Linked DNA regions of Homo sapiens: region 1 is linked to region 2. Evidence: fine-mapped expression QTL. A gene starts in region 2. The other region holds a variant in brackets. All regions are shown on one strand. Distances are from middle to middle. Region 1 overlaps PRDX6-AS1 (PRDX6 antisense RNA 1). Region 2 holds the start of PRDX6-AS1 (PRDX6 antisense RNA 1).

Region 1 (8,000 bases), 40 kb after region 2:
TTATCTTAATGTTGCAGTAAAACCAAATTCCTCACTCTTTTTTGTGGGACCTGGAACTTTTCCACCTTTATATCTTTTCTCATGTGGTTCCCTCTGCCTAGAATGGCCCAGAACCTATCTTAAGCCGTGAAAATTGTACCCTTGAAAATCCAGCATCAACAGCATTGCTTCCAGGAAGGGAACAGACAGTTTCTCTCTGGCTTTAATGCACCCCTTTCATAAGAACTCATAGAATCACATTGGGCCCACCGGCCCACAAAGATCCCTACTTTGAAGTGATAAGCACTAGTAGCAGCTCATAGCTTGTTTATGGCTGTTTCCAGTTTGTGCCTTTCGTTATAGATAGTCATGCATAGGTCTTCCTCTTTTAGTGAACACATTGTTCACGAGGGAAGAGCTGTGTTTGATTCATCTTTATGCTTCCCATAGAGTCTTGCCCATGAGAAGCACTCAAAATACGTGTGGACTAAAGAAGCAAGTAAAGAGAAGAAATACTTTGTCTAGAATTGCCTATTTCTTTCTGGTGTGGTCTGAATGTGTTCCCCCAAGTTCATATGTTAAAACTTAATCACCAATGTGATAGTATTAAGACGACAGGCCTAAGTCCTGAGAGCAGAGCCTTCCTGGATGGAATTAGGGTCCTTACAAAAGAGCTTGAGGGAGTGTTTGTTCTTTTCTGTTCTTCTGCCATGAGGATACAGCATTCACCCCCCTTTTTGCCCTTCTGTCCCTCCCACCATGTCAGGACACAGTGCGTAAGGTACCTCCTTGGAAGCAGAGACCAGGCCGTTTCCAGCCACCAAACCTGCTGGCACCTTGATCTTGGATTTCCCAGCCTCCAGAACTGTGAGAAATAAATTTTTTATTGTTTACAAATTACCCAGTCTCAGGTATTTTGTTACAGTGGCATAAACAGATGAAGACACTCTCTAATTATAAAGGAATTGCCAAGGATAATATTAAAGGCAGACATAGAAGATAGGCATAGTTTTGGTTCACTTTGCTTCCGTGTCTTTGTACAAATTGTTACTTCTCCATCACCGGTGGGATGTTCTCCTTCCTACCCCATATGCTTCCACCAGTTCACAGCTACCAGTTTCTTCAAGACCTGGCTCAAAGCCTAGTCCTTCCTAGGGGACTTCTTTCCTGAGTCCAGACCACTGCAGTTGCCCCTTTATCCAGTGGTCACAAGGCATCCACACAGGCTGACAGTTGCTACCTGATCATCATCACCAGTCATCAAGCTGTTATTGCATACTTGGTATATGAAAGGCTCTATGTCATGTGCTGTGGGGGAGGGAGGGAGAGCTTTGCAGAGGAAGTGGGATTCAAGCAGGGTCTTGAAGGCTGTGTTTTAATTAAAGAGGTGGAAAAGAAGGGGAATAAAATAATGGACAACATTGAAGATCAACTTCTACTCTTCTTGTTATTGGCTATATAATTTTGAGAAAAATCTTTTAATCCCTGTGGAAATCCATTTTCTCATATGTAAGGTGGGAGTAATAAAATCTATTATTTTAGATTTAGGGAGGGTGCTTATGAGGATCAATGTGAAAGCCCCATGTATTGGTGAGAATGAATTTATTTGCAAGTGATATTAATAACTTAATTAAGATATAACATGTAAGGAGGCTGAGGCAGGAGAATCGCTTGAACCTGGGAGGCGGAGGTTGCAGTAAGCCGAGATCTCACCGCTGCACTCCAGTGTGGGCAACAGAGCGAGACTCTGTCTAAAAAAAAAAAAATGTACATATATATATGTATGTAACATGTAACATCTCTTCAGTGGTTAACATGAAGCTGACAAACCTCCTTTCTCCACGACATCAACTCTCTCATCTGGTGGTGTCCACCGTCTTACTCCTGTTGGTTGAAGATGGAAGAAGTCTTGCATTTGTACTTCCTTGTGCAGGGGCCCACATATGGGTGTTCCGTCATTCCAGTAACTTTACATTGCTTGGTAATTGACTGGTTTTCCAAAGAGAAGGGAACTGAATTGTCTCCCCCTCCTCTGCACACACTTTGTTGTTTTAAGTCTGCACCTTTGCTTGCTGTTGCCTCCACTGCTTGGAATGCGCCATCTTCTCAGCCTCAGCCTGGTCAGCAGTTACTGGGTCAGTAAGAGTCAGCTGAGGTCTCACTCTGTGAAGTTTCCCTGACCTCATTTTGACCTCCTAGACTGGCCAAGGTTCCCCTTTTCTGTACTCCCATGCCGTACTGGGTATTGCTCTCTCCAGTGCACAGTTATCACACCATACTACAAAGACCTGCCTCTCTCACTGGGCTCTCCATCCCTTTAAGGCTGGCACATAGCACTCACTCATGACATGGTTGTTGAATGAATGAATGGCCTTCCTCCATTCTCTCCCAGTCCTTTTTTTTTTTTTTTTTTTCACTCTGGGCACCACCATTCCTTCTCTCTCATTCTGCATTGTTTATGGCTTGTTAGTTATTAATGCAAAGCCATTTCTGGGTCTCTAGACCCATTGGTAATGGCCATTGGTAATGTCTCTAGGTGTTAATAATAACACTAGCTCACATCTACTGAGCACTTACTATTTGGCTGGCACTGTTCTAAGCACTTTGCATGTTTAAACTCCTTTAAACGTTCCTTTGTTGCCGCTTTTTTTTCTGCTAGGGACTAACCTTGACATTGTGGGGGAGAGGTGTTCTCGTATAGCTGTGGGACTGTAACATGGCTTTATTTTCCTATTATGTGCAGGACAGTAAATCCTGCAGAGGAATACAAGTTGACTAGGTCTGTCATCACTCAAATACTGGAAGATATGGCTGGGAAAAAACCAACAACAAAAAGTTTTGATATCCTCATAGTGCAATGACATTACAGTTTTATTTTGTTTTGTTTTTTTCTTTATGCGTAGTTCTAAATTACTGTATTATGTTTCAGGTAATTAAGCCAGAAGAACAAATTGGGATGGACTGTTGTATTTACATTTCAGTTTACTAGAGGTAGCCTTGAAATAGTTACAAAAATATGAATATCAGTGGGGAAAAAAATAAGGGGGATTTTCATTTTTTTTTTTCCAGAAACGATAAATTGGCAAGGAAGACAGATACGGGAAAATCAGTCATGAGAATTTGTCTTTCAGTGACTCTTTCTTGGCTGGGAAGAAAAGCTTTTCTTCTATTTAGTTGAGAACAGTGACAAGGATTATTTTACTTGAGGATGGCAGATTATTTTACCAGCAGCTGGCAGATGAGAATAATTCCCTAGACAACAAGGAGGGGCAGTATGGTAGGGAGGGAACCCGGTTCGGAGGGTCTGGGGTTCACAGCTCCACAGTGCTGCTTACCAGCTCTTAGCCTTCATTACATTGCTTACCTTCCTGGAGGTTCAGTTTCCTTATCCATAAAATGGGGGTCAGGTTGCCAAATTTATCAAATAAGAATCTAGGATGTCCAGTTAAAGCTGAATTTCAGATAAATAATTATTTTTTAGTGTAAATATGTCCCATAAAATATTTATGTCCCATGCAATAACTATGTCCCTAATGGTGCGTGGGACATATGCTAAAACATTATTTGTTGTTTATCTGAAATTCAAATTTAACTGTGCGGCCTATATTTTTT[C/TC]TGGCAACCCTAAATGCGGGCAGGGGCAGTGGTGGTGACATGTAGGGATGGTGTGAGGATAAAATAATACCACAGTTAGGTTTTATCGCAGTGTGTAGTCTGTGTGTAGTCAACACATAACTATAAGTAGTGACTGTAACATAACTGTAACTGGTGCATAGTAAAAAACAAATGGATATTATTAGTATAATAGTTGTTATTAATAAAGGTCTTTAAATGACAATTGGCCATACAGGAGCCTTTGGGGAAAAGTTTCTGACTCTAAATTAAGGGAAGGTAAATTATGATCAAGATCTGGGAATAAGATTTAGACTTACACAGTAATAATTTGAGGAAGAGAAAGACTTAGTAAATTAGTTATGTAATTACATAATTAACAACTTGGGAGGTTTTCTTTACACGTTTATTCCCTAGGGCATCATCTTTAAATTATATTTAGTTTTTGCTAAGTTGACCAGTTTGTGGTTTTAAGTGTTTACTTTCTTTTCTTTTGAAATGTAGGGAAAGCATATTTGACATCATCTTAAAGAAATTATGTAGCCATATAAAACCGGAGGGTAGGGTCTACTGGCCAGGAAAAAAAAAGGCCTTTACTGCCACCTGGTGGCCATATTCTTTAACTGCAATGTGCCTAAGTGAGGCTGGAAAGGAAAGCGTTGGAAAACATGCTAAACCCAGAGGGCACCAAGGCCGCGTCATGACAGTAAGAGCCGTCAAGTACTGTGTCCTTTCCCTCAGTTCTCAATCTCTCACAGCTTGAGGCTTGAGAATTAGCAGCTGGCTACGAGAGGTGGAGGAGAGAAAATGGTGAAGTCCATGCCTTCCTCCTTGGTACCGAGTTTCCAAACCTGAAGTGAAGGAGTCTGAGAGGGGAGAAGCTTCAGGTTGAGTAGACTGTTTTTTACTTTTTTTTTTGTTTGTTTGTTTTAAAGAGCCTCTTTATTTAATGGCTCAGAGTGGCTAGAAAATCCGTGGTATTGGTTAGCTTTCATCTCAAGTGCAGGGACAAGGCAAATCCAGAGAGAGGAGTTGAAAGGACAAAGAAAAAAGAAAAAAAATTGCTTTTTACGTGCATTTTGCTGCATGCAGCTCACTCAATAAACATGCGTTAAATGCATAAATATATCATGAGGTAAAAATCGGGGGAAAGGTGATGCATTGATGCTGATAGAGGACAGGCAAACTGCATTCCATTTGGACCGCAGCCTCTCATCCCCCCCCCCGCCACACAAACTAAGGTCAAAATCAGGGAGGGAGTCCAGGGTAAAGTTATCAGTAGAGTCAGCTCTAGGAGCTATAGTTAATCTATTTTAAAAAATCTTAAAAAACCCATAAGTCCATTATAGCAGGGACATAAAGCAGTCCTAGCCTCCTGACCCTGACCCAGCCATGGCAATCAGGGCTGCTTCCTTTTATTCTCCCTTGTGTCCTCATGGGTCTTTCCAAGCCCTGCAGGGAAGGGTGGAAGCTGGTTCCATCAGTGCCTCTCCCCCAGCTTCCACCCTCCTCTCTCTTCTGTGACCTCTCAGTTTTCCTTCTCTGTACCCCAAATCATGCCTGTCTTAGTCCATTGCTGTAACAGAATTCTACAGACTGGATCATTTATAAAGACAAGAAATTTATTGCTTATAGTTCTGGAGGCTGGGAAGTCCAAGCACATGGTGCTGGCATTTGGTGAAGGCCTTCTTGCTGCATCCTCACGTGGCAGAGGGCATCACATGGCAAGTGGGCAAGAGCAGGCTTGTCCGCTTGGGTTACTCTAACTCTTCTTTTTTTTTTTTTTTTCTGAGACGGAGTCTTGCTCTGTCACCCAGGCTGGAGTGCAGTGGTGTGATCTCAGCTCCCTGCAAGCTCCGCCTCCCAGGTTCAGGCCACTCTCCTGCCTCAGCCTCCCAAGTAGCTGGGACTACAGGTGCCCGCCACCACACCCGGCTAATTTTTTTGTATTTTTTTGGTAGAGATGGGGTTTCACCGTGTTAGCCAGGATGGTCTCGATCTCCTGACCTCGTGATCTGCCCGCCTTGGCCTCCCAAAGTGCTGGGATTACAGGCGTGAGCCACAGCACCCGGCCAGGTTACTCTAACTCTTCTTATAAAGCCACCAGCCCCACCGTGGGGGCCACACACTCATGGCCTTATTTAATCTTAATTACCTCTCAAAGGCCCTACCTCCAAATGTCATCGATATGTGAATTTGGGAATTAAGTTTCCAGCACATGAAATTTGGGGGTCACATTCAAACCATAGCAATGCTTAACCTTAGAATACTGCCTGGCATCTGCCCAGGCTTCCACAGCCACTACCTCTGGGACATGTTGGGATCTCTGTTTACATGTAAGGCTCGCCATGACCATTACACATCTGTGAGTCAGTGTAGGGTCCTGGTGGAAGCCCGGTCTTGGAGTCCCTCCATTATGTTTGCTACCCTGGCTCTCCACCTTCAATTTCTGGCTTCTCATTTTGGACTATGATGATTTTCTTGTTGTTAATTTTTTTTTTTTTTTTAGTATGAAAGTTTTCAAGACGCCTACAAGTGGAAAATGCACTCCTCCCAGCCAAATCAAGCTTCGCCAGATTCCTTACAGCTGTGTGCAGTGAAATGACTAATGAAAGAGCCCTCTGCTGCTGGTGGAACTTTCACATATGGCACTGTTATGCCACTCAGCAGGACCCGACCCTGGTATTTACATATTGGATGTCACCCCAAAAGCCCCTGACCAGGGGGTTTCCGGGATGTAATAAGAATGCCACTCTGGGCTTTGGAAGGTGCACCGTATGCACACCCATACTATAGGGCAGGGGTTAGCATTTCAGACCCCTGTTCCTCCCTTGACAAGCAAGTGCTTTTCTCCAGGGAAGACGTTCAGGTTCATTCATAGATCCATTGGTGCCGTGGGCAGCTCAGTAACAATAGCTCTGCTGCCTACCAGCTGCTGGTGGAGGTGTTGAGAATACCTAATGAGGAAGTCAGGGCCCCTGCGTGCTTCAGCAGAGCTGGATGCCTGGCATGGCAATCAATGGACACAAACCTTTGGATAATTTCCGTCCTTGGCGGTGTGTTCTATAGCATAGGTATGAAGTGGGTGCTCTGGGAGCTCAGAAGAGGGGCTCTTCTCTTAACTTATGGGTGGCCAGGGAAGGCTTCCTGGAGCTCAAATGACTGAGTGGAGTCTTCAACATTAAAAAAAAAAAAAAGAAAAAAAAAGTGCTTCCCTCCCACCCCCAGTTAAAAAGGTAATACACCTCATTGAAATAATTTAAACTTTACAGAAATGTGTTCCTTTAAAGTTCAGAGAGTAAAGAGGAAGTAATAAAGCTGAAATAGTAGAATTTCTAATTAACTGGAGCCTGTAGCTTTCTTCCTGAAAAGGGAGTGGTGTGTGTGCATGTGTGAGTGTGTGTAGGTGAATCTGTAAAGGATGGAGTAGTACTAAAAAGAGGGAGGTGAAGACGGAGGTGAGATCTCATCTTTGTGCCCTGAACCTCTTTGTTATAATGTCAGGCAATGAGAGAAATCAGTACTCACCCTCTATGGGACTCTGGCTTTTTCAAACTTGGTTTTCTAGGTTTTGGTCTTGGTTATTGATGGCTTGTAACTTCAGAGTCTCATTGCTGGCCACGCTTCCACGTGGTTTATTAAGATGTTTTCCTAAACAAAATTGATCTCTCCCTAAAAAAATTATAGGTCTAGCTGTAAGATGTTAACAATATTTAACCTGCTACAATGCCAATAAGAGTTCTTGTTTATTGAAGACTTTTTTTGCACCAGCTATGTGCTAAGAGCTTTACATTTGTTACCTCATAACATCAACCCTCACACGAACCTTATGAAGCGGGTATTTCATTATTCCCACATCCCAGATAAGGAAGCTAGGATTATTATTGCTGCACCCGCAAAGCTGATAATCAGTGGGGCTCGGCCCCAAACCGAGGTGTCTCTGACTCCTGGGTCTATGCTCACAAATGCACCATTCCTCTGCATTATTTCTCAAAAATATTTGGCTATAGGAGCATTTTCAAAAGTGAGCACCACTTACCTCTTAGTACTGTTATTAGCATTCCGTGGGACACAATTTGGGAAATACTGCCCCAGGAAAATACTGCCCTGTCTTTAAAATAGAGATAATAATACAATCTCCATATTGTGATGATTAAAAGACGTTTCAGGAAATGGGTGCTGAGGATACTTACCTTCCACCAGGAATGTGTGTGTGCTTTAAAAATAACATTTGTGGCCGGCCACAATGGCTCACAACTGTAATCCCAGCACTTTGGGAGGCCGAGGCGGGTGGATCGCTTGAGTCCAGGAGTTTGAGATCAGCCTAGGCAACATGGCGAAACCCTGTCTCTACTAAAAATACAAAAATTAGCCGGGCATGCTGGCGCACATCTGTGGTCCCAGCAATTCAG
Region 2 (8,540 bases):
ACCTGTGAATCTGTCTGGTCCTGGGCTTTTTTTTTTTGTTGGTGTTGGGGTGATCAGACCCAACACCAGGTCATGGGGGTGACAAAGTCCAGCAGAGTCAAAGGATTGAGAAAAAGACAGTTTGAGGGAGAAAGGTGGAACCAGGAGGCCATTGTTAGTGTATGGAGGCTGTGAAGGCTCTGAGCTCTGGGAGCCCATGCTATTTATTGGTAATCCAACAGAGAAACAGGTGGTGAGAATGTGGAGGTCAGAAGAGCAGGTGCATGATCTACAGCTGTGATGGTTTGGCATTTATAAGGAACATGTTCTGCTACTTGAGATAATGAAGATACAATCGAACTAGGAGCCTAGGAGGGCTAGAAGCAAGGAGCCAGCAAGTCTAGACACATTCCAGAGGACATTGTGGCAGACATGCGAGCCCTGCCTCAGCTTTCTTCCCAACACTCAGCTTTTTCCCAACAGTTGGTAGGCTATTTATTACTGCTTCAATTTCCAAACTCATTATTGTCTATTCAGGGATTCAGTTTCTTCCTGGTTCAGTGTTGGGAGGGTGTATGTGTCCAGGAATTTATCCTTTTCTTCTAGATTTTTCTAGTTTATGTACATAGTGGTGTTTGTAGTATTCTCTGATAGTTGTTTGTATTTCTGTGGGGTCAGTGGTGATATCACCCTTATCACTTCTGATTGTGTTTATTTGAATCTTTTCTCTTTTATTCTTTATTAGTCTAGCTAGCAGTCTATCTATTTTATTAATTTTTTTCAAAAAACCAGCTCCTGGATTCATTGATTCTTTGAAGGGTTTTTCATGTCTCTGTCTTCTTCAGTTCTACTCTGATTTTGGTTATTTTTTGTCTCCTGCTAACTTTGGGTTGGTTTGCTCTTTTTTCTCTAGTTTGTTTAGTTGTGATGTTAGGTTGTTAACTTGAGATCTTTTTAGCTTTTTGATGTGGACATTTAGTGCTATAAATTTCCCTCTTAACAGTGCTTTAGCTGCATTCTGGAGATTCTGGACATTGTAGTTTTGTTCTCATTGGTTTCAAAGAACTTCTTGATTTCTGCCTTAATTTCATTATTTAACCAAAAGTCATTCGGGAGCAGATTGTTCATTTTCCATGTAGTTATATGGTTTTGAGTGAATTTCTTAATCTTGTGTTCTAATTTGATTACACCTTGGTCTGAGAGACTCTTTGGTATGTTTTCAGTTCTTTTGCATTTGCCAAGGAGTGTTTTACTTCCAATTATGTGATCAATTTTAGAGTAAGTGCTGTGGCGATGAGAAGAATGTATATTCTGTTGTTTTGGAGTGGAGAGTTCTGTATATAGCTATCAGGCCCACTTGATCCAGAGCTGAGTTGAGGTCTTGAATGTCTTTGATAATTTTCTGTCTCAATGATCTGCCTAATATTGTCAGTGGGGTGATAAAGTCTCCCACCATTATTGTGTGTGAGTCTAAGTCTCTTTGAAGGTCTCTAAGTACTTTCTTTTTCTGGGTGCTCCTGTATTGGGTGTATATATACTTAGGTTAGTTAGCTCTTCTTGTTGAAATGAACCCTTTACTGTTATGTAGTGGCCTTCTTTATCTTTTTTGATTTTTGTTGATTTAAAGTCTGTTTTGTTATAAACTAGGATTGCACCTGTTTTTTTCTGTTTTCCATTTGCTTGGTAAATTTTCCTCTATCCCTTTATTTTGAGCCTATGTGTGTCTTTGCACGTGAGATGCGTCTCTTGAAGATAGCATACTAATGGGTCTTGGCTCTTTATCTAGCTTGTTATTCTGTATCTTTTTTTGGGAGGCATTTAGCACATTTTCATTTAAGATTAGCATTTTTATGTGTGGATTTGATCCTGTCATCATGATGCTGGCTGGTTATTTTGCAGGTTTATGTGGATACTTCATTGTATCATTGGTATGTCAGTGTGTTTTTGTAGTGGTAATGGTTTTTCCTTTCTATATTTAGTGCTTCCTTCAGGAGCTCTTGTAAGGCAGGTCTGGTAGTGATGAATTTCCTCAGCATTTGTTTGTCTGAAAAGGATCTTATTTCTCCTTTGCTTATGAAACTTAGTTTGCATATGAAATTCTGGGTTGGAAATTCTTTTCTTTAGGAATATTGAATACTGGCCCCCAATCTTTTCTGGCTTGTAGGGTTTCCACTCAGAGGCCCAATGCTTGTCCGATGGCCTTCCCTTTGTAGGTGACCTGGTCTTTCTTTCTGGCTGTCCTTAACATTTTTTTCTTTTTTCTTTTTTTTTTCAGATGGAGTTTCACTGTGTCACCCAGGCTGGAGTGCAGTGGCACGATCTCAGCTCAATGCAACCTCTGTCTCCTGGGTTCAAGCAAATCTCCTGCCTCAGCCTCTTGAGTAGCCTGAGTAGCTGGGACTAAAGGTATGTGCCACCACACCTGGCTAATTTTTGTATTTTTAGTAGAGACAGGGTTTCACCACGTTGGCCAGGCTGGTCTTGAACTCCTGACCTCAAGTAATCCACCCACCTTGGCCTCCCAAAGTGCTGGGATTACAGGCATGAGCCACTGTGCCCAGCCAACATTTTTTCTTTCATTTTGACTTTGGAGAATCTGCTGATACATATCTTAGGGATGATTTTCTTGAATAGTTATCTTACTGGGGTTCTCTTGTTCCTGAATTTGAATGTTGGCCTATCTTGCTAGGTTGGGGTCATTCTCCTGGATGATATCCTGAAGTATGTTTTCCAACTTGGTTCTATTCTTCCTGTCTCTTTCAGGTACCCCAATCAGTTGTAGGTTTGGTCCTTTTACATAAACCCATATTTCTCAGAGGTTTTATTCATTCATTTTCATTCTTTTTTCTCTATTCCTGTCTACCTGTCCTATTTCAGAGAGATAGTCTGCAAGCTCTGGGATTCTTTGCTCTGCTTGGTCTATTCTGCTATTAATACTTGGGATTACATTGCGAGTACTTGTAGTATGTTTTTCAGCTCTGTGAGGTCGGTTATGGTCCTTTCTATACTGGCTGTTTTGGCTGTCAGCTCCTGCATTGTTTTATCATGATTCTTAGCTTCTTTGCCTTTGGTTAGGACATACACCTTTAGCTCAGCAAAATTGGCTTTTGTCCACATTCTGAAGCTTACTTCTGTCATCTTGGGCTCAGCCTAGTTCTGAGCCCTTGCTGGAGAGGTGTTGTGATCATTTGGAGGAAAAGGGGCTCTCTGGGTTTTTGAATTTTCAAGATTTTTGCGTTGATTCTTTCTCATTTTTGTGGGCTTATCTATCTTCGATCTTTGAGGTTGCTGACCTTTGGATGGCGCTTTCATGGATTGTTTTGTTTTTTCATCTTTTTCTTTTAGCAGTCTGTTTACTCTTCCTTACAGATGCTGCAGTTAGCTGGGGGTCCACTCTACACCCTGGTTGCCTCAGTTTTTCCTGTACTTGGAGGTATCAGCAGTGAATGCTATGAAACAGCAAAGATGGCAGCCTGCCCCTTCCCCTGGAAGCTCCATCCCAGGGCGGTACTGTCCTGTTGCCAGCATGAGCACACAGTATGTAGGGGGTGGCTGGAGACCCCAGTTGGGACATCTCACCTAGTCAGGAGGAACGGGATCAGGGATCCACTTAAAGAAGCAGTTGGGCTGTTTTTGATAGAGCAGTTGTGCTGTGTTGGGGATCCCATCAGCCCCTTGTTGGTTTGGGCTCTCCGAGGCCCACAGGCTGAACTGGCTGAGGTGCCCAACAGCCAAGTTGGTGGCCCGCCTTCCCCTCTGGGCACTCTGTCCCAGGGAAAAATTAGAAGTCTGTTGGCCACAGAACATGGGCGGGGGTGGCTGGATACCCCAGCTGGCATGATCTACCCGTCAAGGAAAAGTGGATCAGGGTCCCACTTAAAGAAGCCATCTGGCCATGCCTCAATAGAACAGCCTTGTTGTGCTGGGAAACTGCTTCTGCCCTTGTTGGCTTGGACTCTCTAAAGCCCACTGGTTGGAATGGCTGAGTCATTCAAACAGCCAGCTTGGTGGCCCTCCTTTCCTCCCCTCCTCCCCTCCCCTCCTCCTTCCCTCCTCGCCTCCCCTCGGGCATGCTATTCCAGAAAGAGATCAGGATCCGTTTGTGGAATACAGGCAGAGATGGCTGGAGGCCCCGGTTGGGAGGTCCCTCCCAGTGAAGAGGAATGGATTGGGGCCCCACTTAAAGAAGCAACCTGGCCACGTTCAGGCAATGCCGCTGTAGTGTTCTGGGAAGACCCTTCCTTGTTTGAACCATATGGATTCTCCGAAGCCCATAGACTGAAATGGCTGAGTCAACCAAACAGTAGAGATGGCAGCCCACCCCTCCCACTGGGGACTCTGTCCCATCACAGGTAGGCTATATTCCAAGCCAGTAGGTCTTATTTTGTGAGGTGTTGTGGAAGTGGGACCCACAGATTGATGCTGCTTGGCTCCCTGGATTCAGCCCCCTTCCTAGGGGTATGTACAGACCTCCCACCTTGCCTGAGTTACAGACACCTCTGTTGGGGATCCTGGGGCCGGAATATGTAAAGTTCCTGGATCTCTATGCATGCCTGAGCAGCTGCTCTGCTGAGACTCAACACACCTCTGTGTGTGGGACCCAAGACCCTGGTGATGTGGGTGCACAAGGTGGTGTGGGTGCACTGATCTCCTGATCTGTGGGTTGCAAAGATCCGTGGGAGAAGCGTGGTTTCCTGGGGTTGCACACTCACTCACTGCTTCCCTTGGCTGGGGGTGGGAGTTCTCTTGGCTTCATGTTGCTCCCAGGTGGGCTATTGCCCCACCTTGCTTTTCTCTCTTCTCCATGGGTCGAGTTGTTTCTGTGATCAGTCCCAGTGTGAGTGCCTGGATATTTCAGTTGAAGGTGCTATATTCACTTGCTCCTTTCTTCCTCTCCCTGAGTGCCACAGACAGCTGCTGCTTCTAATTGGCCAACTTGGCCCCCCTCCCCTGGGTTCTTAATAACGTAATTAAACCACAACCCATCCTAAAACTTATCCTACTTCTAGATTTCTGTTGAGTTCAGAAATACCCTCATTTTTAAAGATAATTGGAGTCAGGGTTTCTGTTACTTGCTGTCAAAAGCATTCTTAATTAGACTTGCTAATATTTGACTTTGGATTTTAAGAATAACCCAATATGTATTTTATTTTTACTATTGTTTAGTATTTAGTATACTTTAGTATCAGAATTAAATTTGTCAGTGAAGTGTATTGGGAAGTTTTTCATAGTTTGTACTGGCCGAATGTTTAAATAATCCAGGAATTATCTGTTCTTTATGATGTATTAGAACTTACTGATAAAACAAACTGGAACTGGTGCTTTTTTTGAAGTTAGAGCTTTTGCTGCATTTTCAAGTTTTTCTTTGATTATTGGGATAATTTCCTCTCTTCATGAGCTAATATTAGTAATCTGCATTTTGCTAAAAATTTGTCTATTTCATGTAGATTTTCTAATTTACTGGTGGGTATTTGGAATTTTAGAATTTTAAAAATCTCTTAATGCTGAATTATTTTTCTTTCCTTGTTGTAGATATTTGCATTTTCTTTCTCTTTTTTTCTTGTTCACACTTATTAATGGTTTGTATGTTGTATTCTAAAAACAAAAACAAAATAAAACAATTGCTTTATTTACCAGGTCTATGCAATTTTGTTTTGCCATGCTTTCTAGTTCATTAATTTTGAATTTTATTTTTATTAGTTTCTCCTATTCTCTGTTGGCTTATTTTTTTTTTTTTAATTTTTTTAAACTTTCTTGAACTGGGTGCTTAGATCATTTACTTTCAATCTTCCGTATATATTAAGAAGATCACTGAAAGCTCTGAATTTTCCTTTGAGTTAAGACTTTGGTTGTATCCCATAAGCTTTGAAATGGAGTGTTGTTTCATTGGTAATTTCAAACAGTCTGTGTTCTAGTACTGATTTCCACTTTAATCCAAGAGTTGTTTAGAAAACTGTTTTATAATGTCCATGTAATTAGATTGAGTTTGCTGTCTTTTTCATACTGATTTCTTGTTTGATTACCATGTGATCTGTACCTTTAGATATTTGAGATTTTATTTGTGACTTAGTCCTTGATAAATGTTTATTACTGCTTCATGGCTGTTTAAAAAGAGTGAGTTCTTTCTGTATAAAGGATACAACAAATATTATCTATGTACATGCCTTTCTCTACTTGTTTGTTGATCTATGTATGATGTCCATCACCCCTTATCTGCTTAAGCTCTAAAGGTCTTTTCTCTTTTCCCTACTCTTTCTCTTTCTACATCATCAATTCCTGATTCTCTACTAGATCATTATATTAGCATACAAACATGCTCTAGTACAACTCTCTCCAGTATAAATATGATGTGAGCCACATATGTAATTTAAGATTTTATGGTAGCCATATTAAAAAAGTAAAAAGAAAAAAAAGTAAATTTAATTGTCATATATTTCATTTAACCCAATGTATGTGAAATATTATTTCACCCTATAATTGATGTAAAAATTATTGATGAGATATTGTATATATTTTCTCATACTGAGTCTTCGAAATGTGGTGTGTAATTTATACTTATAGCATATCTAAATTTATGCTAGCCACATTTCTTTTATATATACATATTTTTTATTATTATACTTTAAGTTCTAGGGTACATGTGCACAACGTGCAGGTTTGTTACATAGGTATACATGTGCCGTGTTAGTTTGCTGCACCCATCAACTCGTCATTTACATTAGGTATTTTTCCTAATGCTATCCCTCCACCAGCCCCCCACCCCCCGGCAGGCCCAGGTGTGTGATGTTCCCTGCCCTGTGTCCATGTGTTCTCATTGTTCAACTCCCACTTATGAGTAAGAACATGCAGTGTTTGGTTTTCTGTCCTCGTGATAGTTTGCTTAGAGTGATGGTTTCCAGCTTCATCCATGTCCCTGCAAAGAAACATTAACTCATCCTTTTTTTTTTTTTGGCTCCATAATATTCCTTGGTGTATATGTGCCACATTTTCTTAATCCAGTCTATCATTGATGGGCATTTGGGTTGGTTCCAAGTCTTTGCTATTGTGAATAGTGCCACAATAAACATACATGTGCATGTGTCTTTATCGTAGAATGATTTATAATCCTTTGGGTATATGTCCAGTAATGGGATTGCTGGGTCAAATGGTATTTCTAGTTCTAGATCCTTGAGGAATCACCACACTGTCTTCCACAATGGTTGAACTAATTTACACTCCCACCAACAGTGTAAAAGCATTCCTATTTCTCCACATCCTCTCCAGCATCTGTTGTTTCCTGACTTTTTAATGATCGCCATTCTAACTGGCATGAGATGGTATCTCATTGTGGTTTTGATTTGCATTTCTCTGATGACCAGTGATGATGAGCATTTTTTCATCTGTCTGTTGGCTGCATAAACGTCTTCTTTTGAGAAGTGTCTGTTCATATCCTTTGCCCACTTTTTGATGGGGTTGTTTTTTTCTTGTAAATTTGTTTAAGTTTATTGTAGATTCTGGATATTAGCCCTTTGTCAGATGGGTAGATTGCAAAAATTTTCTCCCATTCTGTAGATTGCCTGTTCACTCTGATGATAGTTTCTTTTGCTATGGAGAAGCTGTTTAGTTTAATTAGATCCCATTTGTCCATTTTGGCTTTTGTTGCCATTGCTTTTGGTATTTTAGTCATGAAGTCTTTGTCCATGCCCATGTCCTGAATGGTATTGCCTAGGTTTTCTTCTAGGATTTTTATGGTGTTAGGTCTTACATTTAAGTCTTTAATCCATCTTGAGTTAATTTTTGTATAAGGTGTAAGGAAGGGATCCAGTTTCAGCTTTCTACATATGGTATACTGGCCACATTTCAAGTCCTCAGCAGCCACCTGTGGCTAGTGGCTGTTATATTAGACAACTTAGTTTTCATATTTTTTCAGGTTTAAAACTTCTAGTTTGACCCAACGTTTCCTTCTCCTACCACTTATTTCTCTGTTCATGTTTCTTTCTTTCTCTTCCTTCATACATTGAAATACATCTTGTTAAATCCAGGCTGGGTGTGGTGGCTCATGCCTGTAATGCCAACACTTTGGGAGGCCAAGGTAGGTGGATCACTTCAGCCCAGGAGTTTGGGACCAGCACCTGGGCAGCATGGCAAAATCCCATCTCTACAAAAAAAAAAAAATACAAAAAATTAGCCAGGCGTGGTGGTGTGCACCTGTAGACACAGCTACTGGGGAGGCTGAGGTGGGAGGATTACTTGAGCCTGGGAGGTTGAGGCTGCAGTGAGCTGAGATCACATCACTGCACTCCAGCCTGGGCAACGGAGTGAGAACCTGACTGGGAAAAAAAAAAAAAAAAGAAAATCCAATGGAAGCTTTTCTTCAATTTCAATGCATTTGACAGAGTTGATTACTTTTTTGGAAACACTTCTTTCTCTGCTTCCGTTACACCAAACTCTCCTATTTTTTTTTTTTGTTTGTTTGTTTGCCTCTCACTGGCTACTCTCTCTGTTTCACCTCTTCTCTTACTTCTGAATGTTGGTGTGTCTCAGGAAGTTCTCTGGCTCTTTTCTCTATCTGTAGTTTCTCT

The links. PIP is the estimated chance that this variant, and not a neighbour inherited with it, causes the effect.
Region 1: its variant is fine-mapped to the expression of PRDX6-AS1 in whole blood (TOPMed, PIP 0.99).

Annotation. Positions count from the first base shown.
Region 1 is chr1:173,416,720-173,424,719 of GRCh38, reverse strand. PRDX6-AS1 (PRDX6 antisense RNA 1) reads left to right here. Exons shown (of 2, transcript NR_125960.1): 2 at 6,098-6,931. The region is part of intron 2 of LOC100506023 (a long non-coding RNA gene); the gene reads left to right. It also overlaps a transcript of TNFSF4 not described here. Among named protein-coding and RNA genes, the nearest start is that of PRDX6-AS1, 41 kb to the left of the region's middle. RefSeq lists enhancers at 4,341-4,440, 6,199-6,538. The variant C/TC (reference allele first, on the strand shown) is at 3,592.
Region 2 is chr1:173,456,169-173,464,708 of GRCh38, reverse strand. It overlaps PRDX6-AS1 (PRDX6 antisense RNA 1), which reads left to right and starts at 3,347. Exons shown (of 2, transcript NR_125960.1): 1 at 3,347-4,331. It overlaps LOC100506023 (a long non-coding RNA gene), which reads left to right. Exons shown (of 3, transcript NR_037845.1): 2 at 2,255-2,385. RefSeq lists an enhancer at 4,118-4,617.